Linked DNA regions of Homo sapiens. The protein of the gene in region 1 purifies or fractionates together with the protein of each later gene. This does not show direct contact. Each region holds a gene or a part of one and is shown on either strand. Other genes may lie near its edges.

Region 1 (7,707 bases):
AATTGTGACAAAATTGATCAAAAAACTAATCATGCGCATGATGCTTATTGAATATAAACTACAAATTATATGGTTTTTCTTGGTCTGGATGTGTCTACAAAAGTGAACTTATTTAAAGAAAACACATGAGCCAGGAGCGGCAGCTCACACCTGTAATCCCAGCACTTTGGGAGGCCAAGGCGGGTGGATCACAGGGCCAGGAGCTCGAGACCATCCTGGCTAACACGGTGAAACCCCGTCTCTACTAAAAATACAAAAAAAATAGCTGGGCATGGTGGCGGGTGCCAGTAGTCCCAGCTACTTGGGAGGCTGAGGCAGGAGAATGGCGTGAACCTAGGAGGCGGAGCTTGCAGTGAGCCGAGATTGCGCCACTGCACTCCATCCTGGGCGACAGAGTGAGACTACATCTGGGGAGGGGGGAGGGATAGCATTAGGAGATATACCTAATGTAAATAACGAGTTGATGGGGGCAGCACACCAACATGGCACATGTATACATATGTAACAAACCTGCATGTTGTGCACATGTACCCTAGAACTTATAGTATAATAAAAAAAGTAAATAATAAAAAAATTCTTGATAATATATTTTTAAAAAAAGAAAACACATGTAAAGCTTACTGAAAAAATAAATTAGAAAATCTGATAAATTCTACTTTTATTGTTTCCAATACAGTAACTTCAATAAATTACAAGCAAATTTTTAGAGATTTTTAGACGAATAATTTTCATGGACAAAGTGTTCTTAACATTTATTACACTAACTGTATGCATGTAGATATTTCAAAATACTTTCAAGGTATTTATTCTCTTTATATATTAATTTCAAGTTCATTGCTATTATAAACATATTCATTAACAAAAATGGAAAACATAAAAGCTGACTTCCACGCATAATATCACAAATGTCTAATGTGACTGAATTAATGATGTTGCTACTTATTTCATAAAAGAGTAAAACACTATTTTCAAAGGATAGATCTTGCTTTACATAAAATGTTCTTGAACTGCATGAGAGACACTGAATAATTCTGTACAGAAGTCCAGATTCAACTTTCCTGAAAATGATTGGGAAATGACTAGATAAATGATCATAGCTAATGTTTATTGTTTAGGTAAAAGTACCTAAGTAGAAAAGAGATCTTTAGGCCAGGCACAGTGGCTCACGCCTCTAAACCCAGCACTTTGGGAGGCCGAGGCAGGCAGATCACTTGAGGTCAGGAGTTTAAGACCACCCTGGCCAACACGATGAAACCCTGTCTCTACTAAAAATACAGAAATTAGCCAAGTGTGGTGGAGTGCATCTGTAATCCCAGCTAGTCAGGAGATGGAGGCAGGAGATTTGCTTGAACCTAGGAGGCGGAGGTTGCCTTGAGCCGAGATCACCACCACTGCACTCCAGCCTGGGCAACAGAGCCAGACTCTGTCTCAAAAACAAAAACAAAAACAAAAAAAAGAAAGGTGATCTTTAAAATACCATTTAATCCACCTCCTGCTATTCTTCTTTCCACAGAGTACATAATTGTTCCACCACTATAACGGTTTCACATGTATACATTTAACTTGGAGTTCAATAGAAGAGAGAGAAAGATTCTAAAAATACCTGAAAGAGAGATGTAAACATTAAAAAAGGCAATAATTTAAGTGGTAAAAATAATTCTAGCTAATGGCTTTATATGGACTAGCTTTTTGCATTGTGACAATTCTTAGTTATGGAAGCTAAGACATCCTCACCCCGGTTAGGTAACTCACACAGGTCACAAAAGCTGTTAGTTTTGGAGCAGACTCCTATCCTGATACTTTGTTTTCAAGTTCTTAACTGTCCCTGTCCCCTTATTTGATTAGCTGATCCAGTACAGAGTAACAGTCAAACATTTAAGGAAGTTGGTATTTAGATTTGCAAGTAGAAAGAAGGGGACAAATATTTTGAACTCCTTCAGTGTTCCTGACACAATACTAAGTACTTAGGAAGTTTTCTCACTATTTATCTTTACACTCATATTTGGTAAAGCCTTTATAAGACTATAAGATCTGAGATTTGTTTGGAATCAAGCAACTCAACAATGAAAAATAAATATAAGTAATTAAAGATTTGGGAAGTAATCCTATTAATAGAAGAAAACATAATGTATTTTTTGTGTAGAAAAGGGTATGTTTATGAGAAACTTACTAACAAGAGTTTCTAGATATCTAAAAGGCATTTGTGAACAGAGTTTTCTTGTTTTCCCAAGCCAATAGAAATAGAAACAAAACTAAAGTATATGGCGCGGGGTACAGTATTCATGAATAAAATGTAGCTAAGAATTAGCATGATGCTGATATAATATTGAGTAACCACTGTATATCAGTACTAAAGGCAGTGACAGAGATAGAGATATCAAGTTATATTAGGAAAGACATAATATCAGTTCTCATTCCTTTCTTCTCCAGTGTTTTTCTTAGGGAAATAAACATAAATACACAAATATTTCTGCATATAAATTTCATCCTGCTTTCCAATCTATAAGTTATGTGAAATTGTCTCTATTTTTAAAGAGAAACTATTAGAGTTTAAGAAGTCTTCCCAATTTAATAAAGAAATTAAGTGGAAGTCAAGGAAGGCAGTTTATGGAGAAAAAATTAAAGCACAAAGCTTGGAGCTAGAATATCTGAGTTCCAGTGTGGACCTGGGCACTTTGTATCATTTGACTGTGAGAAAATTGCTTCTCAATACTTTATTTGTAAAATAAAACATATGAATACACGCAAAATTGTTGGAAAGATTAAATAGGCATACTGTCAGTAGAAACACTTTGAATATAAATATAAATACTTTTTAAAGAATTTATGGAAGAACAGACTTCTTTCTTGGCCTATGGTTGAAGATTAAATTAAAGAAACCTAAATGCTCATGTTTTTAGTCAATAAGACTTTGATCTAAACTTTTAAAGCTGCTTCTGACCAAACGTTTTTATTTGACTACTTCTCATCTTCAAACTCATGCACAGTATAAGTCATTCTTGCCATCTAACATGGGTCTAATATGGTTCATGATTTGCATTAACTTTGAGAGATTTTAGCTACCTAATAAGGAAAAAAATAGTAGTTAGAACCTTGTGCATCTTTGAGTTATCACCTACCCAATATTATCAAAAAGTACTACAAGATAGCCCTTGTGATATACAGGGATGGAGAATAACAGTGAACAATGAAAACTACTTACAATTTCAGAGAAGAACAGGATAGATCTTAGGGCCAACAAGTTTAAGATGTCTTTTACCTCTTTATATGTTACTCATTTTATCACATCCAACTGGAATTATTCTTGCACTTCCTATTATTGAAAGCTTCTAGAAATTTGCAAGAAGCAGATAGACCTAATAATTAATCTGATCATCAGTCCCCCCCCAAAAAAATGCTTGAGTCATAAATAGCAGCGAAATCCATTGATTGTAAATAAAGTAGAAGGGAGACATGACTGAGCCATTTCCACCAAGCAAGATAATTAAAGTCAGAGATGCTGTTTCCTGCTTCCCTGGTATAAACAATGAAGCTGCTCTACTGGCCTCTCCACAGCCTGGATGTCCCAAAACCACCTCCCTCTTCTTTCCTTCCACATTCTCTAAAGAGGATTCTGGGTCATAAAGGAAGGAAAATTGGTGTAACTTTTTTCCTGAAACGACTTCAGCTTCCTCTGTGTTTGTATTTGTGATATCTTATTATAAGACGAGCTAACATCTATTATTAATTGATGCACTAATTAAAGCCATACTTGCAGTTTCCATTAGCTTATTCCCTAAATTCTCCAGAGTTGCCTGTCTGGTTTTAATCAAAACCAAATGGTAGTCCAAATTCCCAACCTGGAGCAGCTAGGAGGAAGTCATTCAAGGGAGGCACAAGAAAGCAGAAAAGATAAACAGATGATAGTTCACAAAATTTGTGACGGACGAAGGATGCAGATACCATGAGCGGCTTTAGAGATGTGATTCAGGAACGCTGCCATGCTAGATGGAAGCAGTTGTAAGTGTTTAATGTCAGCAAGACTCTAATACGATCAAGATGGAGCCTGTCTTCTGCTCCAGCACTGGATTTTTGTAACTGGAGGATTCTGACTAGAGGTAATGCGCTGCTGCATTTGCCATAACACGAACTATTTTAATTCTGTGAAGGATTCTTGTGATCAGAGAGATCTGGAAGAAATCGTTCTATTAACTGGATGCTTGGGATTTTACTTACAGATGGTCTCAGGGACAGAATGAAAAGCTGCAGCATTTCCAATTTTAAGTCATGTTCAAAAAAGGTTTTGCCATTTAGAAGAATTATGGTATTAAGGCTAAATTCATCTTGCTCTCTTAAAAGATCTTTTGAAATGAGAGCAAGCACAGGCATTTTGATTAAGCTGTGCATATACATTTAATATAGTGGAAAGGTTGTGGATAGAGAGAAAACTACGTTTTCTTTCTTTCTTTCTTTCTTTTTTCATAAGCAGTGTGGGATAGAAAAAGCTCTAGGACTTTATGACTCTACAGCTAATCACCTCAAGAGCTTTGACAAAACTCACTTGAGTTCTGTGTAAAATCAGAACTCCTAAAACGCCCAGGCGGCTGGGCTCTCCCCTCCTCCCCTCTCTTCGTACAGCCTTTCTAGCATGCACACTCCTCAGAGGCAGGAAATACTTTCCAGGCAATCTGGGCCTGGTTGTGGAGGCCCCTTTTGCAAAACCTCAGTCTGAATTTAGTAGACAGAAGTCACTAGGAATGCCTTGACAGGATCCTGCCTTAGCTAAGGCTCCCTCCAGCTGCAGAGGGTGTTTTTGTTAGACTCACACACTGCGTGAAACTGCTCAGAATAGAGCCATGATCTCAACCACGAAATGGGAACTTAGATTTTGGAGAAACTAACGGGGACGGACTTCTTTCCTAGCCTGAGTGTTGAGCAGTGTCATGCCTTGGCGTTTCAGCTCCTCGTTGTCTAGGTAAGACGCTATGGACTATCTTTATGCTTTGAGGCGGTCTTTGAAGAGGCAGAAAGATTGAGATAAATGTTAGCATCTTGCACGGAGTTGGTGACTTCCTAGGTTTTAGAGCAAAGCCATAAAATCAGAAGTGGAAAATGTTTGATAAGTAGAAAATTCTGAGTCAATTCGTTTTAGCAAACTGTCAGTTCTAAAACAGGCTCCATATAGATTTAACTCTTTTCCTCCATAAAGTAAGATTTTATTTTTATCCCTTTTTACGTTTAACTTATTTATTAATTGAGCTGTCGGATCAGTTTTCCTATTTCTTGGCATAACGTGAAACAAATACATTTTCTCACACATCAGTGTGAGGTGTAAATGAATTCCTCCCCTACCTTCCTTTGCCAACAGGGAGAGTAGAAAGCACCCGAGTGACTTGTGCTTAATAATCAGTCTCCAAAGAGTATTTTGTGTCTCATTTAAAACTACGAAGATTGAATTTCTTATTATTTTACCCAAGCCAGTTTCAATCATATGTCAAGCTTCTCCTGTACAGCTTAAAAGGTTCATTTAAAAAAAAAAAGTAAACACGTGAAATTTCAGGAATTATTTCTGTCCTAAATAGTATTTAATCTGAGTTTTGGAAATTTAAATGTCGGAATCGAATTTAGTTTATATTAATTTTCCTGGATTCACTGCTTGCTCCGGTCACATTTTGTGTAATATTTTGAATAACTGAAGTCAATCTCAATGACACTGACACTCATTATAACTCTTTTAAGGCAGCCAGAAATCACTCCAGTCATATGGAAACTGTTTGTGTCCTTACTTATGTAATCGTAAAATTACATTTCCACCTGACTGTAGTCTCTTCAAGGTAATCTTAAATGTTTAAATGTACAATATATTAGAAAAGAAGTTTAGTAATGACCGAAAAAGTGTGGACTTATAATGCATAAGATACTGTTATATTTCTGAATATTTATAATAAAATTCATCATTTTATAGAAATAAAATGGTACATAAAGGGAAGAAATATTCATGTACATTTTCAAATCTATTAGATGAATACAAAATATACTAAGTGAAAGATGGAGAGCTATTTTGACAGTTGGATCATAAGAAATGAAGTAACTGTTTTCATTATAAGTTTTTATATAGTACAAGGTGACCATCTGCTATATTAGCTATTCTCAAATTTTATGCTAGAATAACTTATATTGATAAATTTTAACTATTCACTGACAATTTGTGTTAAAACTTCTTAAATATGAGAAAAAGAATCTACTTTTTATATATGTGGAAGATAAAATACTGACTTATCTAAATTATGATTTAATTAAAATCTCCAAATGGAATTTCAGAGAAGGAAAGAACATAAGAGATGGTCTCCTCTAACAATGGCTTGAGGTTGTCTACAAGAAGCTGAGAAATGGGATTTAAAAGTGACCTGTCCAAGGTCACACCTCTAGCTAATAGAAGAGAGGACAGCAGAACCACAGTGCCCTGATTCATAATTCAGATACCTTTTTATCCCATCATCCTGCCCTCCCATAATAATTATGCATAATGAAGTATGAACATGTCCAGTAGAAGGGTGCTTTGCAGACAGAAATTTGCAGTTCCTCTAATTTAAAAAAAAAAAAAAAAAAAGGTAAAACTGTCACCAATGTTAATTATGTGGGGAAAAAAATCCTAACTTTAAAAAAAAATCAAATCAGTATGCCTTCAATAAACACTTTACAGTAGTAACTTGCTTTATGACTATTTTATTATATTTGATGTTTATGTCAAGAAAATCAATCCATATGCTAATAATTATATTAATTTTAATCTGATGTTTCTTTAAAAATAGGGCTAGAAAACAGCTTTTCTAATTTATATCCTTGTACTCAAATGATCATAATGAAACTGTCCCAACCAATGACTTTCAGAGGCAATTTTACAGCACCACCCCCAGGCATCCTTTCTTCTATCTAGCCTAAATCATTGTTGCTGTAGCTTATTTCAAGTTCTATGTGGGTCTTTTCACTAAATATATAAAAAGCCTAAGTTGACATATAAAAAATATGTTTACATTTCTCCAGCATGTTTGCAATCCCTTAATTGATTTGTATGTCTGCTCTAAGCCTTCTACAAAGTCATTTAATTGTAGAATGCAGAATTTTTACAGTATATAAATAAATGTCTGAACAACGTGGTATAAAATGGGAGCGTGGGCTATTTCATCTGCATCATACTTCATATATGACAATATTTGTTGCTGTGTGTGCTGAAGCAGTATACCTTCTCAGACAAGACCCTTTCTCATAAATGTAACACATTCCATTTCTAATAGCTGCCATTTCCTTAGAGAGAATGTGTCACGATACTTTTTTTTTCCATTTTCATGACCAGATTGAGTTTCCTGATGTTATTACTACTTAAAAGAGACACTATTCAACACTTCCTTTCAATGTCACCACACTCTACATTATTGGAATGAGAAATAAGTGCAGTAAAGTGGTGGCCCTTATAGCTGACTGCCTGATTCCTAGAAGGCCTAGTAAAAGATAGCACATCACTTCATTTTCTTCATAAGGACATTATAATTTAAAAAAAAGAATTTTTTCTCTCTCTGTCTATACCTACCCATACCATATAACTCACTACAAATACTTATGGGATGGTTTAATCTTATTCATAGAGTTTTAGATCTTACAGGCTTAAAATAGGTCAAAAATTGATCATTTGAAATTTGTCTTTTGTTTGTTTTTTGTTTCCTCTTGAAA
Region 2 (7,910 bases), on another chromosome or scaffold:
ATACATTATCCACACTGCTTCTAGGTTTCTACCAAAGGAGGGGCTTTGCTGAATGTATAGACAGTACTGGACTACCAAAACATCTCTTGTTTTGGAGTGTAGACATTAAGGGGTTGGTCTGCAGCTCAAATCCAAGCTTTAAAGGATGTCCAGGCAACTGTTTCGAAAAGATTTCTACCTCTGGGACAGAAGTTATATAGACCTTTGGTGAAATCCAGTTATAACCTACCTGCTTGTCTCATTCAGAGAGGCAAGGGGCAAGGTCTTTTATTTCCTCCCCCTCTAAACAAGTAAACATGATTTCCAAACCAAGAGGAACTTTATAGTGGGTTAAATAGTGCCCTCCCGCACATCCAAAGATATATCCACGTCCTAACTCCCAGAACATGTAAATGTGACCTTATTTTGAAAAAGGAGTTTTGCAGATTTAACTGGGTTAAAGATCTTGAGATGAGATCATCCTGGATTTAGGGTAGGTGACTGAATATGCAAATGGACAATGGCCAGACCATATGTAAAAACAGAACTCTGACCCACAACCTGCAGCAAGCAACCCAGGAGACTAACCCATTATCTACAGTAACCAGTCCAGGAAGTCTATAAATTAGACTTGTAGAAAGTTAAATCATTATCTCTAATAACAATCCTAGGAGACAAACTATAACAATTGTCCCAAATGACCAGTACTGGATTAATAACTGGCATCTTCCCTAACTTTTGTCCCCATTTCCAAGTTGAGACTAACAAAAAGAAGCCATAGAATGCTCCACTTCTAGTTAGCCTGCCTGCAGCTTCCTCATGCTGAGAGCCTCTAATCAGGGCATGCCCACTCCTCTGCCTGCCTTCAACTTTGCTAAAATGCAGGAGATTGTGGCTCCCTCCCTTACAAGGCCTGAATAAATAGCTTTTGCTTGTTCTCATTTGATTGATCTTCATTTATTTCTACACAAGAATCCTTATAAGAGAAAGGTAGAGGGCTACTTGAGACTCAGACCCACATGGAATAAGACCATTTGACGATGGAGGCATGGAGCTTGAAGTCACTTAGCCCCTAGGCAAAGAACACCTGAAGTCACCAGACAACAGAAGAGGTAAGTGAACCACCAAAATGTGCAAGGTGCTGTCAACACCTCAGTTTCATCATCTGGCCTCCGTAACTGTGAGAGAACAAGTTTTTGTTGTTTTTAGTCACCCAGTTAGTGCCAATTTGTTATGCTAGCCCTAGGAAACTAACAGAAGCTTTTAGCAAGGAAATTTGCATCTGCTACATGGCTTTTTCTGGAAAGATCCATAAACCTTAGTGTAAATGGCTTAAAAACAACTGTTTTGTTCTTTAAAATTATACTTGTTCTCATGAGAAGATTTACATAGCATTATAAAAATGTCTGGTGAGTTCTTCAATAGTTCCCTTAATAGCCAGGCACTATCTCTGCCCTCAAAACACTCTAGGCAGAAAGACACACAGTCAATTAAAATGGAGAGGCGCAGCAGCTTATGTCTAAGCCTATCTACACATAACCTCTAACCACTTAACTCACTCTATTACCTTTGTAAGTCATAAGTGACTAATTCCCATATCATGCTAGGAAACTGTTAACTAGTAAATCTGCCTATTTCTGCTCCTATCAATTGACTAGTTCAATCTTATGACTTACTTGTGTTTGTTTGCAAACCTGTTTTTGCCAGTTGTGCTTGATATTGTGCTTTCGTAACTTAATATTGTATAAACCAATGAAATAGTGTGGAAATTGTTGTTTCTTTAAAAATCTATGTTTAATATTTTGGAAAGACCCAACAAAAGTATGTGAGATTAACTGTAAAAGATTATAAAATATAGCGGTGGCTCATGCCTGTAATCCCAGCACTTTGGGAGGCTGAGGCAGGCAGATCAAGAGAGGTCAGGAGTTCGAGACCATCCTGGCCAACATGGTGAAACCCCGTCTCTACTAAAAATACAAAAATTAGCCGGGCGTGGTGGTGCACGCCTGTAATCCTAGCTACTTGGGAGGCTAAGGCAGGAGAATCACTTGAACCCTGTGGAGGCTGCAGTGAGCCGAGATCGCACCACTGTACTACAGCCTGGCGACAGAGCGAGACTTCATCTCAAAAAAGAAAAAAATTACAAAGTATAAATCTGCCCTCAGATTGCTTCACAGGTGCCTTTAAGTTATTTTCCCCTTAAAAGAACAAAATCTTGGGAAATCTTAGCTGATGGTTTATGGGTACGGTTTATGCAAGAGATAGTATGCAGAATTCCAATCAGTAGACTACATGCAAAGAAAAGGTCTTGGATCTTCTCAATAGATGGGCAAATGAACACACAGTTGTTTTAGGTTAGAATACAGTTTAAGGTATTTGTTATATTTTTTCATGATTCTGTGGTTTAACTGACCTTTTTTCTTATAAAAAAAGCCTTTTTTAGATATAATTTACATACCACAAAGTACATCCTTATAAAGTGTACAATTCAATATTTAACCATTTTTTCCACTTATTTCTTGGCTAGGGGCCCAGACTACATCTATGAGAGGGCTTCTTCATATGAACAAAATGTAAAGAAGCTATTAATTTTGCTTGATGAGGGATGGGGATTCAGGGAAGATTATGTTTGAGCTTGAAGAGCCTTGAACAAAAAGTAGCAGTTAGGCATATAAAAAGGAGGGTATTTTGCTAAGTAGAGGAACTGCAAATGTAAAGAATGAAATCATGTGGCCTCCAAAGAACAGCTTTTATTTGAGTGGCTTGGGAATAGGGTGTTTTTATTTTTTCAAACTTAATTATGCATCTAACTCATACATAGAGGTTAAAACAAAACAAAAAAGCAAAGCAAAACATGCTCAGGCCTAACTCCTAGAGATTCTGATTCAATGTATATTTGGGATAGAGTCTCTACATTAATTATTTTTTTTTTCAGTTGCACTTGCAGTTCTGATTTGCAGCCAAGACTGAGAACCACTGGAGTAGGATAGAGTGAAAATGGGATGAGGAAGTGTTAGGACATGACACTAGGACCAGATGGTGAAAGGAAATGGTATGCAAATACAATATAACAAACTCTCTTCCCTGACAACTTCATTCTTTTGAAATATTTTCTTTTTCATTTTTTTTTTACTGCCACTACTTTTGCATGAAAGAATACGAATCCCACCATTGTAAAAACAGAGATAAATGTTTAAAACCTTTGTAACTAAAAGACCTCTGTTTTGCTTGAGGTATTAAGCTGGTGCAAAAGTAATTGTGGTCTTTGTCAATGGCAAAAACCGCAATTACCTTTGCACCAATCTAATGATATTTAACATAAACAAACTCAGGGCAGAGTGCACCTTCTGATTGGGTGTACCATCTACCGCTCGGGGCTCTTTAACAAATGACCAAAGAAAACATGAATTTTGACATAACTGGTGCTAGGGTTATTGAAGGGTGGGTTTCCATTCTGGGTTAGTGCTCCCAGTCTCTAGTCAAGCACAAGAACATGCCTACCCCAGAGGGCTCTTCCAAATTCCCAGCTATCTGAGATTATGAGACAAAGGTTCTTTAGCGCCTACCAAATGAGCAACAATGAAGATAAAAGGGACCTCTCCTTCCATCATAACCAGTTCCCCAGGAAGCACCATTTCTCTTACTCTTGGAAGGTCGGATATTTTTTCCCTTTACCATACACTGGCCTTCCATGTCCTAACTGCTATTTTCAAATAAATGAACGTTATATTCTTGGAGGACAGATCAGGGATGCTAAACTGCACCTTTATCATGATTTTAGGGATGAGCGCCTTTTACTTAAGTCCTGCTAGTGGCACATATTTTAAAAGGCCATAGAGGACATCCGTGTTGTCAACACAAGTGAAGGCGCTCGGAAGAGTGTTGGTCAGCAAGAATCAGCACAAAGACATTGGAGGAGAGACAACAGCTTGTTTCTGGAAACAAATGAACAACAAAAAAACACTAAAACATCTCGAGGGGGCCCCTGACTTGAGCCCTGCATGGGAAAAGCTGCCAAGAGCTAGCATGACAAGGGACTGGCCCTGGGCTGCGGTGAGGAAACCCAGCGTCCTGACCACACTGCTGGGTCAGCGAGGCGTCCCTCAGAGACCGGAAACGCGGACTTCAGCTCGCTTGGGAAACGGCTTCCATTAGCAGAAGGGAGACTGCGGTTTAGTCCCGAGGTCGCTCCAGCAGCCCGGCCTCACGCGACCCACCATTCCCGCCGCCCCCTCACGGTGCCCGCCGTTCCCGCCGCCCGGCTTTCTAACCGGGCCCCTAGTTCCCCGCCCCGTGCCCTCTGGAGACCTGCAGCTCCTGCCGCCCTGCGCCCGCTCCCAGGGCCCGTCGTTCCGCCGCCCTATCCCTCCTCAAGGGGCCCCTAGCTGCCTCCTCGCGACCCTTTCCGGACTCGGCCTGCCCACTCCTGCCCGCTAACCCGCCTGGCTCCCGGGCGAGAGCCCTCGCGCGGCTCTGGTTCCTGTTCCTCTAACGCCGCCGGGGCTGCGGGATGCCGACTCCGCGGACCGCCCAGACCCGGAACTGCTGAGGCAGCAGCGGGCTCGCGGCGCTTGGCTCATCCCGGGATTCCCCAGCTCTCGCGCTGGGCCCGCCGCGTTCGCACCAAGCACGCCAGGCGGCCCTGGCCTACCTCCCTCCCGCCTCCCGGCAGCTGGCACGAGGGAACCTGGCCGTCAGGTTTCCCCTGGGATCCTGGGACGGTATCAGGCGGGGAATCTGTGCGGCCGCGGCGAGGTAGGTGAGGTGAGGCGGGGCGAGGTGGGCGAGGGGGGCGAGGTGAGGCGGGGCGAGGCGGGGCGAGGCGAGGCGGGGCGAGGTGGGCGAGGTGGGCGAGGTGAGGCGGGGCGGGTGTCGTCGCGCTGGGCCGAGCTTACGACTCCAGCTGACCCGCTCGCGGCTGCCCAATTTCGTTGAGGCTCAGGACGAGGGACGGGGCGGCAAATTGTCACAGAGGTCGCCGTAGACCGGTGTGCAACCGAAGGTGAAGAGCGGGAAGGCGAGGACCGAATCGCCTCTGGTGTGCGTTGTCCGACAGGAAGTCCCGAATGGGCTGTGAGCCGCCGGTGGAGGTGCCCGGGCAGGTGCAGAGCCACAGCCTGCGCCCCGTGAGCCGAGGCGGGTAGGAGGAACAGGGACCTGGCGGCGACACACGTTGGGCGGAAATTCACAATGAACAGGGAAGGGGGGACGGTCACCCACTCAAAACTGGCTAAATGAACCTCAGAGGGAGCCCCGAGAGATGGGGAGCAAAGGTTAGGGGAAGCGGCAGGAGAAAACCTTCTTGGGGCAAAGGGCGTCACCAAAGGGGGTCACCGGAGCCCCGCAGGTTGGGGTGGGAGGGCTGGGCTGGAGGTGAGCAAAGCTGCACGGGGAGAATGAATTAAGAAAGTTGAGAGGAAGCCTGTCTCATCCAAATCACTATAGCTTTTGTGGTCATTGCTAAGTGTGGAGTACTGCGCAAATCCTGAAGGGAACTCTATTAGCCATCTCAGCTTTTATCATCTTAAAACGCGAATTTCGCGTGCAGCTCCATTTAGCTTCGTAAACTTAAGCCCCCGCATATGAAAGGATGAGACCTAATATGACAATCATGTCAGGACTAATGATATATCACACAGGTTGACACTCTGCAATTTAAAAACAGGACTTTGTCTAAACTCCACAAGTAATTCCTTACTCAAAAGTTCTGTGTAAACAAAACAGAGGAACTGTCGTGCTGCTGGAAAGATGTACCAGCATTTTCACAAAACGAATTAAAAGATGGCTTTGCTTTCACTGTCATGGTTCTGTTGTGACAGAGTAGACTGGCTTTTCTGGGAGGGGCCTAGATTTACTATTTTAGTTACATTTTAAAATCAGTGTAATTACTTCGTTTTTAATCTACCACAAATTTCTGTTGTAACTATAAGATTTATATAATCTTATATTCTTACACTAATTTTTATTTGCAGGTGATTTATTTGGCATAAAAGTATTCTTTCAAGGATGGCAGAAGCTGTTTTGATTGATCTTTTTGGTTTGAAATTGAACTCTCAAAAAAACTGCCATCAGACATTACTGAAGACTTTGAATGCTGTCCAATACCACCATGCTGCCAAGGCCAAGTTTCTCTGTATAATGTGTTGCAGTAACATCAGCTATGAAAGGGATGGAGAACAAGATAATTGTGAAATAGAAACAAGCAATGGATTATCAGCTCTCTTGGAAGAATTTGAGATTGTTAGCTGTCCCAGCATGGCTGCCACTTTGTATACCATTAAACAGAAAATTGATGAAAAAAATCTGAGCAGCATTAAGGTAATTGTACCCAGGCACAGGAAGACATTAATGAAAGCTTTTATTGATCAACTCTTCACTGATGTTTACAATTTTGAATTTGAAGATTTGCAAGTGACTTTTAGGGGAGGGCTTTTTAAACAGTCCATTGAAATAAACGTAATCACAGCTCAAGAACTAAGAGGAATTCAGAATGAAATAGAAACATTTTTGAGAAGTCTGCCAGCACTGAGAGGAAAATTAACTATTATCACTTCTTCTTTGATCCCAGGTATATTAACCACTAACTGTTGTTTTTACTTTGTACATGGAAAACTAGTCTTTCTTCAGAGGTAGTTCACCTCTTTTTTTCCTCCTTTCTTTTGTTGACTGTTGTGGGCTGATTACTCATTAGCATCAGTGGCAACACAGAGGTGTCATGTTTGGCCCTGTAGTATCAGGGGTGTCAAGGGATAAAGCCTTCAAAGCCACCCCAAATAAATAAATTTGCTTTACAAAAATTTGATGATGAGACAAATAATCTAGCCCTCCTTTGCAATGAGATTTATGACACTGAAAATCTTCTATTTAGAAATTCTGAAATTTCAAATCATTGGCACCTTCATAGAAGAGTAAAATTTAAAACAATCAATCTTACTTCTTGGTTAAACAGTATTTTCTGTGAGCTATATGCTATTAGATATAACAAAGCCAGATGAGACACAATATACCTTTTGAAGAGCAACAATCTCATAGGGAGTGTAAAACAAACACAAAGCAGAATGCCATAAGAACATATGGAGGTACAAAATGCCATAGAAATTAGAAGCCAAATAACAAGGGCAGGTAGCAGTGATCAGGGAAGGTCTAATTGAGAGACTGGTATTTTGAATAGCATCTTTTAAATCTTCACTGCTTATCTTCAACAGATATTTTCATACATGGATTTACTACAAGAACAGGTGGGATATCTTATATACCAACTCTTAGCTCATTCAATCTCTTCAGTAGTTCCAAACGGAGAGATCCCAAGGTAGTGGTTCAAGAAAATCTGCGTAGGTTGGCGAATGCTGCAGGATTTAATGTGGAGAAATTTTACCGAATAAAGGTAAAATTTTGCTTTATATTTTGAAAGATCTAAAGTATATTTTTTACTTTGCTAGTAACTACATGGACTTTAAGCTATTTAACTTTTGTATCTGCTTTTTTATCTAAAGTTTTAGAATAATGCTGTGGTTGTCTTTCTTAGATTTATACACCATAGCCTAAAGATAAGTTCTATTTTATACACACACACACACACGTGCAGATATATATATATATATATATATGCACACACACATATAGTAAGTCATCCTTTAATGTTGATAGGTTCTTAGAAATTGTGACTTTAAGTGAAACGACATAATAAAACCAATTTTACCATAGGCTAATTGATATAAATAAGAATAAAGTTTCTAAGGCATATTTCTTGTCACAAAAACATCACCAAACTTCTAAATAAAGACCAACACATTCCTAGTATTAAACATTGAAATAAATGTGAGCTAGACATATATTTACAAAACAGTAAGAAAGACAAATAAGATAACTACCAAATTATTTCGGTTCAGGGCTTTAGGTAGCTGGAGTCTATTCTGGCAGATCAGGATGCA

What was found.
Region 2: the proteins of DLC1 (region 1) and LACC1 purify together in Homo sapiens (affinity purification with mass spectrometry; 2 studies listed by BioGRID and IntAct, with this or other methods). This does not show direct contact.

What each region holds. Positions count from the first base shown.
Region 1 is NC_000008.11:13,511,849-13,519,555, reverse strand, and holds the start of DLC1 (rho GTPase-activating protein 7), read left to right. Parts: upstream 1-4,704; 5' UTR 4,705-4,954; intron 4,955-7,707. UniProt on the Homo sapiens protein: Functions as a GTPase-activating protein for the small GTPases RHOA, RHOB, RHOC and CDC42, terminating their downstream signaling.
Region 2 is NC_000013.11:43,875,001-43,882,910, forward strand, and holds the start of LACC1 (purine nucleoside phosphorylase LACC1), read left to right. Parts: upstream 1-4,903; 5' UTR 4,904-5,119; exon of another isoform or gene 5,120-5,252; intron 5,253-5,951; 5' UTR 5,952-5,985; coding exon 5,986-6,547; intron 6,548-7,184; coding exon 7,185-7,363; intron 7,364-7,910. UniProt on the Homo sapiens protein: Purine nucleoside enzyme that catalyzes the phosphorolysis of adenosine, guanosine and inosine nucleosides, yielding D-ribose 1-phosphate and the respective free bases, adenine, guanine and hypoxanthine.